Homo sapiens: one gene and its partners. The protein of the gene in region 4 interacts with the protein of the main gene of each other region in a pairwise test. Each region holds a gene or a part of one and is shown on either strand. Other genes may lie near its edges.

The links. Proteins that work in one complex are often made in the same cells at the same time.
Region 1: the proteins of SYK (region 4) and DYNC1I1 interact in binary tests that used the Homo sapiens proteins (3 or more experiments, as listed by UniProt).
Region 2: the proteins of SYK (region 4) and TRAIP interact in a two-hybrid assay, tested with the Homo sapiens proteins (one study listed by BioGRID).
Region 3: the proteins of SYK (region 4) and CANX interact in binary tests that used the Homo sapiens proteins (3 or more experiments, as listed by UniProt).

The regions. Positions count from the first base shown.
Region 1 is NC_000007.14:95,779,054-95,782,553, reverse strand, and holds part of DYNC1I1 (cytoplasmic dynein 1 intermediate chain 1), read right to left. Parts: intron 1-3,500. UniProt on the Homo sapiens protein: Acts as one of several non-catalytic accessory components of the cytoplasmic dynein 1 complex that are thought to be involved in linking dynein to cargos and to adapter proteins that regulate dynein function.
Region 2 is NC_000003.12:49,850,065-49,853,564, reverse strand, and holds part of TRAIP (E3 ubiquitin-protein ligase TRAIP), read left to right. Parts: intron 1-3,500. UniProt on the Homo sapiens protein: E3 ubiquitin ligase required to protect genome stability in response to replication stress.
Region 3 is NC_000005.10:179,701,967-179,705,466, reverse strand, and holds part of CANX (calnexin isoform d precursor), read right to left. Parts: intron 1-3,500. UniProt on the Homo sapiens protein: Calcium-binding protein that interacts with newly synthesized monoglucosylated glycoproteins in the endoplasmic reticulum. It may act in assisting protein assembly and/or in the retention within the ER of unassembled protein subunits.
Region 4 is NC_000009.12:90,895,505-90,899,280, forward strand, and holds the end of SYK (tyrosine-protein kinase SYK), read left to right. Parts: intron 1-23; coding exon 24-96; 3' UTR 97-3,045; downstream 3,046-3,776. UniProt on the Homo sapiens protein: Non-receptor tyrosine kinase which mediates signal transduction downstream of a variety of transmembrane receptors including classical immunoreceptors like the B-cell receptor (BCR).

The DNA.
Region 1 (3,500 bases), on a different chromosome or scaffold from region 4:
AAAAGTGCTCATTCTGGCTCCTGCACCTGCCTGTCTGCATGCTCCCCATCCCATACAGGGTTTGAGCATGCAGTGGCTGAGCAAATGAGCAACACCTCTATTGCAAGTCCCACAAATGGCTCAGGGAACTCTCCCAATTAACTTGTAGAGTTGGTGGCTGAAACCACTACATATGTGGTTACATATCAGTCAGTGTCCCTAGGGGTGCCCCATAGAGACTGTAGTTATTAGCAGGAATAGGCAGACTTCATGGAAGTCCTTCCCTTCCATAGTCATTTGAGTTTATTACGAAAATTCCAGTTCCCTTCCCATAGGACTACACTTAAGGATGCCACTGTAGTCAGGAATGGCCACACAACTGCTTTTGGCTCATGAAACATGAGTAGAGGTGTCATATGTCACTTCCAGGAGGTTTAATATGCAGTATGCAATTTACCACAGGGATTGTAAAAGTATATATCAAGAGGAAGCCTCATGCAGCATGGGCCTCTGAGTGAACATGGTGAACACAGACCCTTGTTGACCCACACTGGACATGTAACGTGGCCAAGAAAATTTTTTTGTTGTGTTGGTCCACTGAGGTTGGCAGTTATTTTTTGTTGCATCATGACACAGCCTAGCCTGATCAAATTCACTCCAATGAGTCGGAATTCTGGTTACTTTTCACCTTCCCTGACAGCGTTGACATCTTCAAGCACCCCTCCTTTACCATCCCCATCTTAAAGTGCTATGGAATGCCCCGTGAGGAGGGTGTAAAGAATAAGAAAGTACTAAATGTCATTATTAACCACACAGTCTCCAGAGCATGTGCCCTGGTTAAAGCAACTTTCTGTATTTTCCTCCAGGAAGTTTAGAAAACACTTTTTCCATGTGCTGCCCAGATCTGCCTTTCCAGCATTTGGGAAGGTAGCGGTGGTGTTGACAGTGTTATAGGGTGATGTTTCCAGTACCCTGACCCATCGTCAAAAATGAACTTTTGCCCAATTTACTGAGAAAAATGGCTCAGTCAGGGCAGACTATACCAGGGAAAGGGAGCACTCAAAGATAGTATATCTTCCTCCTCCTCGACAATAGTTTTGTAACCAACTTTTCTATCTACTTTAAGGTCTCTAATTTATTGTCTTAGAATTTTTTGAACTCACATTTCTTCATTTTTAAAAACAAGGGATACTCAAGGAAAATGAGCACAGTTCCCCTGGCTTTAAATTCTCTGGCATAAGATATGGGATTTCACCCTTGCTTGATATGCCAATTACTTTTCAGCAGCATTTGACAAATATTAAAAAGCTTAAAATAGGAGGCAAGAAAATGTGTAAATATTCAAAACCCCAAATCTGGCCTTTTACAGTGTCCCTGGGTGGTCCATATTTGCATTGGGAGATTTAGTTTGGCATTTTTAACTTACCCAAATAGATTCTCATTTTCCTCTGAGCCTGAAGGCATTCAAAGAGGGAGGATCCTCTTTCCAAATCAGCTGTAACCTATACCTTCTGAAAGTGAACAAAGTCACACTTTTCAAGGAAGCCGGCAGAGAAGGTTTTTTTTTTTGTTGTTGTTATTCTTTCTTCCACAAAATACACACCAATTCCCACAACCTCTTGCTATATTGATACTAACGGGCAGATGGTGAAACAGTAGACGCACGGTCGTTTTAAAAGGGAACATTGTGTCAAAACACACATTCCCCACAGGGCCTGCTTCCTTTTCCATCATCCAAACCCACCAACTGACATTCCACAAGTTGGTTCTGAGACAGAGTCTCAGGGTCATCCCCTGCACTCAGGCTCATTTTAACATTCAACAACTTGATAAACATTTAAAGACTTCCACATGGTGTGCTGTAGGATCTAAAACTGCATTCAGAAAGAGAGGACTTCTTTCCATTACAATTAGTGAAGTCTTCATCTTGACAAAGAAATGGGTACTATTTCAGGTCAGAGTAAACAATCTAGCATGTATTCTAAAAGGGAAAGTGAGGCCGGGCGTGGTGGCTCACACCTGTAATCCCAGCACTTTGGGAGGCTGAGGCAGGCGGATCACGAGGTCAGGAGATCGAGACCATCCTGGCTAACATGGTGAAACCCCGTCTCTACTAAAAATACAAAAAAAAAAAAAAAAATTAGCCGGGTGTGGTGGTGGGCGCCTGTAGTCCCAGCTACTCGGGAGGCTGAGGCAGGAGAATAGCATGAACCCTGGAGGCAGAGCTTGCAGTGAGCCAAGATCATGCCACTGCACTCCAGCCTGGGCGACAGAGACTCCGTCTCAAAAGGAAAAAAAAAAAGTGGGGGAAGTGATTAAGTGATTGTAGGCAAAGGATGTATAACATTGTGTCATCATTTATTCATTAGAATGAATGAATATTTCATTTATTCAATGAAAATATACTCATTACTTCGCTTCACTTTGGACATTAGAATAAAATATAAACCTGGTAAGGAATCAAAATGTCCCTTCTACCAGAAAGAAGCCAATGTACTGGACTGCTCATCGGACAGTGTCAGACCAAAGCCAGACGAAAAGGATTAGCCTAAGGGGTTCAAAAAGGAAAACACCAGATTCAAACCATGCTGCCCGTCATTTCTTCAATGAAATATTGTCCTCCTCAAGACTCCCCTTCCCCCAGCAGAAATGCTCTGCATGATCCTGATTCAGGAAAGCAAGACTTCCAGGATTCTAGGTATTACCAAGCACACATTCATCTTGGGCACAGACACAAAATGGGCGCTACATTTCAGGAAGTGAATGTTTTTACTAAACACATTAAAATGCTCCAAGGGGAAAAAGAACTCAGTCTTATAAGAAAAGGAAAATTAAGTAGGATTTATTCTGGCTAATATTTCAGGTCAACAAAAGCTTGTTGAGTATTCACCATGAGTAAGGTTCTCTGCTGGAAGACACAATGATGTCTGAAGGAGCCTAAAGTCTAGGAGAAATACGAACGTCAATGAGTAAATTCAAATCAAGACAATTTTTTGTTATAAAAAAACAAAGCATACCTTTGGTTCAAAGGAAGGCAAGATCACACACATCCCAGATAAACTAGAGAGTGACATAATTGCTGTTTGATCGTAAAAAGAATTATGGTATTTAGCATGTACCATGACTGGGGCCTGTACACTGATTGTCTGCAATCCTCACAATAACTTTGCAAGCCAGGCATCATTTTCCCCATTTTACAGACGAAGAAACTGAGGCTCACACAGTCAGTAAGTGGGATATCTGATCTCTTCTTCTCATTACTTTATCATGCCTCCTAGATGCTCTTAGATGTTGTGCTTTTTACTATCTTGTAAAGACAAAAAAATTGACTTAAATTATTTAAACAGGGAAGATTTCAATGAGAAAACTAGAACTTCTAAAGCAGAGTTTCATAATTTCGGCATCATTGACATTTTGGGTCAGATAATTCTTTGTTGTGGAAGCTGTCTTGTGCTTTGTGGCATGTTCAGCAGCAGTCCCAACCTCTACCCACTAGATGCCAGCCCTTTTCCCCAATTGAG
Region 2 (3,500 bases), on a different chromosome or scaffold from region 4:
CTATCTTGTCTAATTTAAAGTCCATTTTATCTGCTATTAGTATAGCCACTTCAGCTGTCTTTTGGTGACTGCATGGTATATCTTTTTTCATCTGTTTTATTTTATTTTATTTTATTATTGTTTTTAGAGACAAGGTCTCGCTATGTTAGCCAGGCTGGTCTCAAACTCCTGGCCTAAAGCAATCCTCCTGCCTTGGCCTTCCAAAGTGCTGGGAATACAGGTGTGAGCCACCACACTCGGCCCTTATCCAACTTCTAGCTTCCGTTGTAGCTATTGAAGTCAGATTTTAGTTTATCAGTTACTCCTTTAAGCATACTTTGGAACTTTATCCTCAGACTCTCATTACCTTTAGAATTTTCTCTGATTTTGGCTTTCTGCAGTTTTGGTATAGTGTATCCAATATGAATTTCTTTTTACCTTTTTCTTTTCTTTTTTTTTTTTTTGAGACAGAGTCTTGCTCTGTTGCCCAGGCTGGAGCACAGTGGGACAATCTCAACTCACTGCAACCTCCACCTCCCTGGTTCAAGCAATTCTCCTGCCTCAGCCTCCCGAGTAGCTGGGACTAAAGGCACGTGTCATCATGCCCGGCTAAATTTTGTACTTGTAGCAGAGACAGGGTTTCACCATGTTGGCCAGGCTGGTCTCGAACTCCTGACCTCAGGTGATCTTCCCACCTTGGTCTCCCAAAGTGCCGGGATTACAGCCATGAGCCATTGTGCCTGGCCGAATTTCTTTTTACAAATTCTGCTCGGGATTCATTAGATTTCTTTAACGTGTAGAGCAATTTCTTTCTTTCTTTCTTTTTTTTTTGAGACGGAGTCTCGCTGTGTCACCCAGGCTGGAGTGCAGTGGCACGATCTTGGCTCACTGCAAGCTCTGCCTCCCGGGTTCACGCCATTCTCCTGCCTCAGCCTCCCGAGTAGCTGGGACTACAGGCGCCTGCCACCATGCCCAGCTAATTTTTTGTATTTTTAGTAGAGATGGGGTTTCACTGTGTTAGTCAGGATGGTCTTGATCTCCTGACCTCATGATCTGCCTGCCTCGGCCTCCCAAAGTGCTGGGATTACAGGCGTGAGCCACCGCGCCTGGCCGTGTGGAGCAATTTCTTTAATCAGTTCTGGAAAATTATCAGCCATTATCTCTTCATATATTGCCTCTATTCCATTAACTTTTTTATCCTGTGTTATTATTTATTTTTGAGGTAGAGTCTCGCTCTGTCACCCAGGCTGGAGTGCAATGGTCCGATCTCGGCTCACTGCAACCTCCACCTCCTGGGTTCAAGCAATTCTCCTGCGTCAACCTCCCGAGTAGCTGGGATTACAGGCGCTCGCCACCGTGCCTGGCTAATTTTTGTATTTTTAGTAGAGACGGGGTTTCACCATGTTGGCCAGGCTGGTCTTGAACTCCTGACCTCGTGATCTGCCCGCCTCGGCCTCCCAAAGTGCTGGGATTACAGGCGTGAGCCACTGCACCTGGCCTACCTAAAGTCTTTGTGGGCATTTCTTCTGGTTTGTTTTCATAGTGCTTTTTTTTCTTGTGTACCTGTTTACTTAAAAAAATGTTTTTTTGGCTGGGCGCGGTGGCTCACAACTGTAATCCCAGCACTTTGGGAGGCCGAGGCTGGTGGATCACGAGGTCAGGAGATCGAGACCATCCTGGCTAACATGGTGAAACCCCGTCTTTACTAAAAATACAAAAAAATTAGCCGGGCATGGTGGCGGGCGCCTCTAGTCCCAGCTACTTGGAAGGCTGAGGCAGGAGAATCGCTTGAACTCAGGAGGTGGAGGTTGCAGTGAGCCGAGATTGCACCACTGCACTCCCGCCTGGGTGACAGAGCGAGACTCAGTCTTAAAAAAAAAAAAAAGTGTTTTTTTGGCTAGGCATGATGGCTCACCCCTTTAATCCCAGCACTTTGGGAGGTGGCTGGATTGCTTGAGCCCAGGGGTCCAAGACCAGTCTGGGCAACACAGTGACACCCCATCTCTACAAAAAAGTGAAAAAAATATAAATTACCTGGGCATGATGGCCTGTGCCTGCAGTCCCAACTACTTGCAAGGCTGAGGCAGGAGGATCGCTTGAGCCTGGGAGGTTGAGGCTGCAGTGACTCATGATTGTGCTGCTGCACTCCAGCCTGGATGACAGAGTGAGACCCCATTTCAAAAAAAGAACATTTTAAAATTGAAGTATAATATAGTTCAGAAAAGTACACATATTCTAAGTATATGGCTTACAGAATGTTTACAAATTGAACATATCTATGCAGCCAGAATTCAGATCAAGAAACAGGGTATGGCTGGGCGTGTTGATTCACGCCTGTGATCCCAGCACTTTGGGAGGCTGAGGTAGGCAGATTGCTTGAGCCCAGAAGTTCTAGAACAGCCTGAGCAACATGATGAAATCTCTACTAAAAACACAGAAAATTAGCCGAGCATAGTGGCATGTGCCTGTGGTCCCAGCTACCCAGGATGCTGAGGTGATCATCACCTGAGCCTGGGAGGTAGAGTCAGCTGTGAGCCATGATTGCTTTACTGCATTCCAGCCTGGGTGACAGAGTGAGACCCTGTCTCGAAAGTCCCCCCACCAAAAAAAAAAAAGAAAACAGGAAAACGCAGGCTATTGGCCGGGCATGGTGGCTCATGCCTGTAATCCCAGCATTTTGGGAGTCCGAGGCGGGTGGATCAGGAGTTTGAGAGCAGCCTGGCCAACATGGTGAAACCCTGTCTCTACTAAAAAAATATAAAAATGAGCTGGGCATGGTGGCGTGCACCCGTAACCCCAGCTACTCGGGAGGCTGAGGCAGGAGAATTGCTTGAACCTGGGAGGTGGAGGTTGCAGTGAGCCGAGATCGTGCCACTGAACTCCAGCCTGGCTGACAGAGCAAGACTCTGTCTCAAAAAAAAAAAAAAAAAAAAAATGCAGACTATTATCAGCTCTAGAAACCTTCTAGAAACCTCCTTATATGCTCTTCCAACCCCTACCAACACCTCCCTCCACCTCCCCATATTAAGATAGCTACTGTCTTGACTTTGAGAGCATAGATGAATTTTGCCTACTTTTTTTTTTTTTGAGACAGAGTCTCACTATGTCCCTCACGCTGGAGTGCAGTGGCGTGATCTCGGCTCACTGCAACCTCCACCTCCCAGGTTCAAACGATTCTTCTGCCTTAGTCTCCCAAGTAGCTGGGATTACAGGCGTGCGCCACCACACCCGGCTAATTTTTCTATTTTTAGTAGAGACGGGGTTTCACCATGTTGGTCAGGCTGGTCTCAAACTTCTGACCTGATGATCCACCCGCCTCGACCTCCCAAAGTGCTGGGATTACAGACGTGAGCCACTGGGCCTGGCCTGCCTACTTTTAAACTGTGTAAATAGAATCATACAAAATATAACTTTTTGTATCTGGCTTCTCTTCCTCAGTGTTATGTTTTTGTGATTTATTCATAATATTGTTCTTAGCTGTAGACTCATTTATTCTTGCTGTGTAGTATTCCACTGCGCCT
Region 3 (3,500 bases), on a different chromosome or scaffold from region 4:
AATAAAACTGAAACATACACAACATCCTCATATAGAGAGGATTGGTTACACAGATGTGGGGCATTCAAATACAATTTCCAACAAACTTTTGCATTTGTAAAGTGCTTTACAACAGACAAAAGCCCTTTCATACACTAATTTACAGGGGGTACCCGTTAAAACATTACAATGAAATAACAGAGATGGCCGGGCGCCGTGGCTCACGCCTGTAATCCCAGCACTTTGGGAGGCCGAGGCAGGTGGCTCACTAGGTCAGGAGTTCACAACCAGCCTGGCCAACATGGCGAAACTCTTCTCTACTAAAAATACAAAAATTAGCTGGGAGCGATAGCGGGCGCCTGTAGTCTCAGCTACTTGGGAGGCTGAGTCAGGAGAACTGCTTGAACCCAGGAGGTGGAGGTTGCAGTGAGCACGCCACTACACTCTAGCCTGCGTGACAGAGCAAGAGTTCGTCTCAAAAAAAAAAATTAACACAGAAGATAATTCCTCTCATATTAAGGCTTAATATGGATACGGTTGCTCAAATATCATCAATAGACATGTTTTCAAATTAGCGTTTTAGAACTCAAAAAGAATATTAAACTAAGAACAAGCTACTTTTTAAAATTTATATATTTTATTTATTTATTTTGTGATGGATTCTCCCTCTGTCGCCCAGGCTGGAGTGCAGTGGCACCATCTCAGCTCACTGCAACCGCCGCCTCCCAGGTTCAAGTAATTCTCCCACCTCAGCCTCTTGAGTAGCTGTGATTACAGGCACCCACCACCATGCCCGGCTAATTTTTGTACTTTTAGTATAGACAGGGTTTCGCCATGTTGGCCAGGCTGGTCTCGAACTCCTGACCTCAGGTGATCCACCTGCCTCAGCCTCCCAAAGTGCTGGGATTACAGGCGTGAGCCACTGCACCTGGCCAAAACAAGCTCCTTTTTTTTTTTTTTCCTGAGATGAGTCTTGCTCTATCGCCAGGCTGGGATGCATTGGCACTATCTTGGCTCACTGCAACCTCCGCCTCCTGGGTTCAAGTGATTCTCCTACCTCAGCCTCCCAAGTAGGTGGGATGACAGGTGTGCACCACCACATCCAGCTAATTTTTGTTATTTTTAATAGAGACAGGGTTTCACCGTGTTGGCCAGGATAGTCTCAATCTCTTGACGTCGTGATCTGCCCGCCTCGGCCTTCCAAAGTGCTGGGATTACAGGAGTGAGCCACCGCACCCGGCTTATCTCTTCTTTTCTAACCACGTAAGCGCCCTGTGTATTATATTAGATGTGTCTTGGGGTAGTGGCTCTCTTTCCACGGAGGACCACAGATCTAAAGAAATAAAAACTGAGCTACACAGATGCACAAGATGATGTGGTTGGTAGCAGGTAAATTTTCATTTTTGGGCTTGAGAAAGTACAGGTACAAGGTGGGGGAGAAAACAAGTAGAAGATACACAACTAAAAATGTGTGCGCACACACACACAAGATGTCCTTTTCTCCTCACATCCTCTGCCCACACAGTCACCCAATCAATCATAGTCTTTCACTCTTCTCCATTACTGACATCAGGATACTTAATGTTACCTTATATTACCAGGGCCTCTAGTTTCCTCCTCCTCTTTCAAGCTATCCTACAAGAAGACTCATCACCCAAAAACTATCATGAGTCCATGTTTGCAAAAATTTCTAAGTCTTTTAGCTAGTAATCAGCACCCTCTCCCTCTATAGCTGCTCTACATGCTATTCCCCCAGGAATCTTCAACTTCCTCTATTAAGACCTTATTTCCCAGCCTGGCCAACATAAACATAGCCTGACCCTGTCTATACAAAAAAAAAAAAAAATTATCCTGTCTCTACAAAAAATCAAAAAAAGAAAAATTTAGCCAGGTATGGTAGCACACACCTGTTGTCCCAGATACTAAGAAGGCTAAGGTAGGAGAAGCCTGAGTCTGACAGGTTGAAGCTAAGTGAGTCGTTGGGCAGGGTGGGGTGGCTCACGCCTGTAATCCTAGCACGTTGGGAGGCTGGTAGACTGCCTGAGCTCAGGAGACCAGCCAGGGAAACATGATGAAACTCCGTTTCTACTAAAATACAAAAAATTAGCCGAGTGTGGTGGCGCACACCTGTAGCCGCAGCTACTCAGGAGGCTGAGGGAGGAGAATCGCTTGAACCTGGGAGGCGGAGGATGCAGTGACCCGAGATGGCGCCACTGCACTCCAGCCTGGGCCACAGAGACTCCACCTCAAAAAAAAAAAAAAGACTCCACCACTCCACCAGGCGCGGTGGCTCACGCCAATAATCCCAGCACATTGGGAGTCCAAGGCAGGCAGATCATCTGAGGTCAGGAATTCGAGACCAGCCTGGCCAACATGGCAAAACCCTGTCTCTACTAAAAATACAAAAATTAGCTGGGCAGGCTGGGCGTGGTGGCTCACACCTGTAATCACAGCACTTTGGGAGGCCGAGGCAGGTGGATCACCTGAGTTCGGGAGTTCAAGACCAGCCTGACCACCACGGAGAAACCCTGTCTCTACTAAAAACACAAAATTAGCTGGGTGTGGTGGCAGATGCCTGTAATCCCAGTTACTCAGGAGGCTGAGGCAGGAGAATAGCTTGAACCCGGGAAGTGGAGTTTGCAGTGTGAGTTGAAATCACGCCACTGCACTGCAGCCTGGCCAACAAGAGTGAGACTGTCTCAAAAAAATAAAAAATAAAGTGAGCTGTAATGGCACCACTGCATTCAAGCCTGGGCAACAGAGTAAGACTGCCTTAAACAAACAAACAAACAAACAGAAAAAGAAGGCAGAGTTTCAGAGATATTTGCAGACCCGTGTTCATAGCAGTACTACTCACAACAGCCAACAGTCAGAAGCAACCCAAGTGTCCATCAATGGATGAATGATTAAACCATATGTGGCATAGGCATACAATGGAATACTATTCAATCTCAAAAAGGAAGGAAATCCCATCACCGGCTATAACATGGATGAACTTTGAAGACAATATGGTAAGTAAAATAAGCAATTCACAAACAGATACCACAAAGTTTTAAAAAAGAAGGAAGGAAGGAAAGGAGGGAGGGAGGGAGGGAAGAAGGGAGAGAAAGAAAGCTGAGCTTAATTTCTGGTCTCCTGGTTGGCATCGTGGCTCGCGCGTGTAATCCCAGAACTCTGGGAGTTGGAGGAAGCAGGATGATCGCTTGAGCTCAGGAGTTCGAGACCAGCCTGGGCAACAAAGCGAAGTATCTATGAAAAATTAGGAAAAAAAAAAAAATTAGCTGAGTGTAGCGTCATCCGCCTGTGGATCCAGCTACTCAGGAGACTGAGGCAGGAAGATCACTTGAACCAATAACAGCAGGAGTTTGAGACTGCAGTGAGCAATAACCACGCCACTGCACTCCAGCCTGATGAAGAGCAAGACCCTGTCTCTAAAAAAATAAGTAAGGCTGAGCGCGGTGGCTCACACCTGTAATCCCAGCACTTTGGGAGGCCGAGGTGGGCGGACTGCCTGAGCTCAG
Region 4 (3,776 bases):
AGAATGCATCTCTTCCATTCCAGTGTGGAAAACAGGCCCGGATTCGCAGCAGTGGAACTGCGGCTGCGCAATTACTACTATGACGTGGTGAACTAACCGCTCCCGCACCTGTCGGTGGCTGCCTTTGATCACAGGAGCAATCACAGGAAAATGTATCCAGAGGAATTGATTGTCAGCCACCTCCCTCTGCCAGTCGGGAGAGCCAGGCTTGGATGGAACATGCCCACAACTTGTCACCCAAAGCCTGTCCCAGGACTCACCCTCCACAAAGCAAAGGCAGTCCCGGGAGAAAAGACGGATGGCAGGATCCAAGGGGCTAGCTGGATTTGTTTGTTTTCTTGTCTGTGTGATTTTCATACAGGTTATTTTTACGATCTGTTTCCAAATCCCTTTCATGTCTTTCCACTTCTCTGGGTCCCGGGGTGCATTTGTTACTCATCGGGCCCAGGGACATTGCAGAGTGGCCTAGAGCACTCTCACCCCAAGCGGCCTTTTCCAAATGCCCAAGGATGCCTTAGCATGTGACTCCTGAAGGGAAGGCAAAGGCAGAGGAATTTGGCTGCTTCTACGGCCATGAGACTGATCCCTGGCCACTGAAAAGCTTTCCTGACAATAAAAATGTTTTGAGGCTTTAAAAAGAAAATCAAGTTTGACCAGTGCAGTTTCTAAGCATGTAGCCAGTTAAGGAAAGAAAGAAAGAAAAAAAAAAAAGGCCTGGATACTGCTTTTGCTGTCTCTGTTATGAGATGGAAGACTTACATGTTTGTGATAAAAGGGGACCATGAGAATGAATTGGCTTGGCTTACTTTCCCCCTGAAATCCTCTCTCCTGCAGACTGTCTTGAAGACCTGGTGACTGGTAAATAAAGCCCTGCATGGAGGCTGCACAGCAGGGGCAAGAGGCCCATCCCCCAGCATCTCACTGAGGACAGCTTCAGGCTGCCTTCCTCTGAACGTGGTCCACACCTTCCTCTCCTCCACAGAGAGGGTGCCGCCAGAATCCCCTGTCGCTTTCTGTGTCTGCAATGGGGGGCAGCACAGGGATCAAAGCCATCTAAAGAGTTTCCAAAGAAAGTATTAATTCAGAACAAGCCAAAGACCCTGAGCCTCACCACAAACAGGCCTTTTGGAGTGTGAATTTGAGTTGAAGATACAAGATCGGAGAATGATTTTCTGGTCTTAACTAATCCTCATCTTCATGTTTGATCTTTAAGAAGTCATCACCCATTGATTTCAGTTTTGCTGTACCTCTTGAAAGTTAAAGAGACATCTCAGCACTTTAGGAGGCCGAGGCGGGTGGATCACTTGAGGTAAGGAGTTTGAGACTAGCCTGGCCAATATGGTAAAACCCCATCTCTACTAAAAATACAAAAATTAGCCGGGCATGGTGGCATGTGTCTGTAGTCCCAGCTACTCGGGAGGCTGAGGCAGGAGAATCGCTTGAACCCAGGAAACGGAGGTCGCAGTGAGCCAAGATCATGCCACTGCACTCCAGCTTGGGCATCACAGCGAGACTCTGTCAAAACAAACAAACAAAAAAACAACTTAAAGAGGTAATTTAGCCATCATTCTTATGCCAGCAGATATAAATAAACTTGGACCCATCTGGTCTTCAGCTAAACCTGAGACATTTTAAAGTGCATGGACAGCCATGGACAGCAGGCCCTCCTCTAACAGGGGATGCAAGGCATGGAGAAAGACAATCAGTACCCAAGCTCAGCCACAGAAGACAGGAGTCACTCATATAACTTGTGTTTAGAAGTTTTTGGTAGCCACGCACACTTTCTGAAATCACACTATCTGGTGGTTTAATCATATTTTTAAAGACAGAATCCCTGAGTGCTGAGCAGATTCTCAAAACACATTTAGAATCCCTGAAATTAGAAAGATCAATGACAAAATATCTGTCAGCCAGGCCACAAACAGGTGTAAAATTATGAAAGGAGTGGTTGGATGTGCCAAGTTTGGTAAAGTGGTGACTGCATCTGAGAAAGAGGCTGTGAGGCTGAACTCTTGGTGGCTTCCTTCTGTAACTTCCAGAGGGAGTCTTCAACACAGGCCCCGTGCTCGTAGGAATACGGTAGCACCTATGTAGGAAGTGCGTGGAGTTTTCTGTCTTCTTTCTGTGTGATTTTTGGCCTTTTTATCAGCACTTCTCCCCTCCCAGGAGCCTGGGGATGCCAAACATCCAGAATGTGATGGGACAAGATGGGGGCAGGGGCCTCACCTCCCTGCAGAGGTCCGGCCAGGTCTCCTTGTCCCTGGACAATCTCCTGAGCCTCTCTGCTTGGTGGAGCAGGCACCTGTGTGCAGAATTCCCACTGTGGCCAGCACGAGGAAGTCTTTTCTAGTGAAAATGTGTCTTGTGGTCAGGAATAATTATCCTTTCCCCTGTAGCCACCAAGGAGGGCAAATAGAGAAAGGTAACCTAATTGAAGGATTGGTCATGTGAAAAGGGCTACATTTGGGAAGCTGGGAAAGGCCTCCAGGCTTCTAGAGCAGCTAGCTTGGGCTGGATTCTCATACCCAGGCTGCCCCTTGGATTGTTCTACCCAAGCTTTTCCCTGGGGTCTGGGCTCACTCCATAAGGTAAGGTGCCTTTTACCTTATGGTCCTTCTTTAGCAGGTAACAAAGGAGCATCAGGGGCAGGCTGCCCTGGTGGCATCACACTGGCTAGTGAGGCCGTGAATATCTTGTCCCCCAGCAGGGCCGACAGTTTCTATCACAGAAAACAGTGTGTTCAGTGGTGAAAATCGTTGCATGCATGTTTTCATCTGAGCGTGTCCTTCTCCCATACTCCCTATCAGCCAGCCCTGCCTGTAGCTGCTGTATGGTGATTGCACTTGGACATCAGTCCAATGACTGCAAGTCGGCCTGGATTTTCACTTGCAGAGGCTACAGCTGCATTGTCAGGTCTCCCAGCCCTGCAGAGAGCTCCCTCCACTGGTTAGCAGTGTGTTGTGTTTTCCATTCATTTCAGAAGAGCTACATTGTGTCACTGGACATTTTTAAAAACTGTGATTTTTAATAAAAATTTAAAATTTGCTTTGTGATGATTTTCATGGAAGTTATTAGGATGTGGTAAGTCACACTGTCAAATAGTGTCAAGCAGCATTGTCAAAGGGGTAGCTAAATGTTTTCTAAAACATTAAGTCCCTGCCATGTCCCAAAAAAGTGAATGTGTTGGCCGGGTGCAGTGGCTCATGCCTGTAATCCCAGCAGTTTGGGAGCCCAAGGCAGGAGGATCTCTTGAGCCCAGAGTTTGAGACCAGCCTGGACAACATAGTAAGACTTTAGCTCTGCAGAAATCAAAACATTAGCCGGGTGTGGTGGTATGCACCTGTAGTCCCAGCTACTTGGGAGGCTGGGGCAGGAAGATTGCTTGAGCCTGGGAGGTCGAGGCTGAAATGAGCTGTGATGGCACCACTGCACTCCCAGCTGGGTGACAGAGCAAGATCCTATCTCAAAAAAAAAAGTGGATGTGCACAGGTCAAAGTTGACTGTGAGATTCCACCACACAGAACGGCGGGGAGGCCCATCAGGGAGGGCCCTGTCCTGCCCTGCCTCTATCTTTTATTCATGAGCAGAGCATCTACCCAGCCAGGGCCTGACAGCCCATGGCCTGCCTAATAAAAGACAGACTGAGGAGACCCAGAAATCCCCCATCAGGCCAAAGCAGGGCTGTGGGTTTTGAGCTATCCCTTTCTCTATGAAGACAGCCTAAAAGGAACTGCGGTAGGCAAAGAAAGGATTCCAGAGCCCCAATTTCTGCCTGT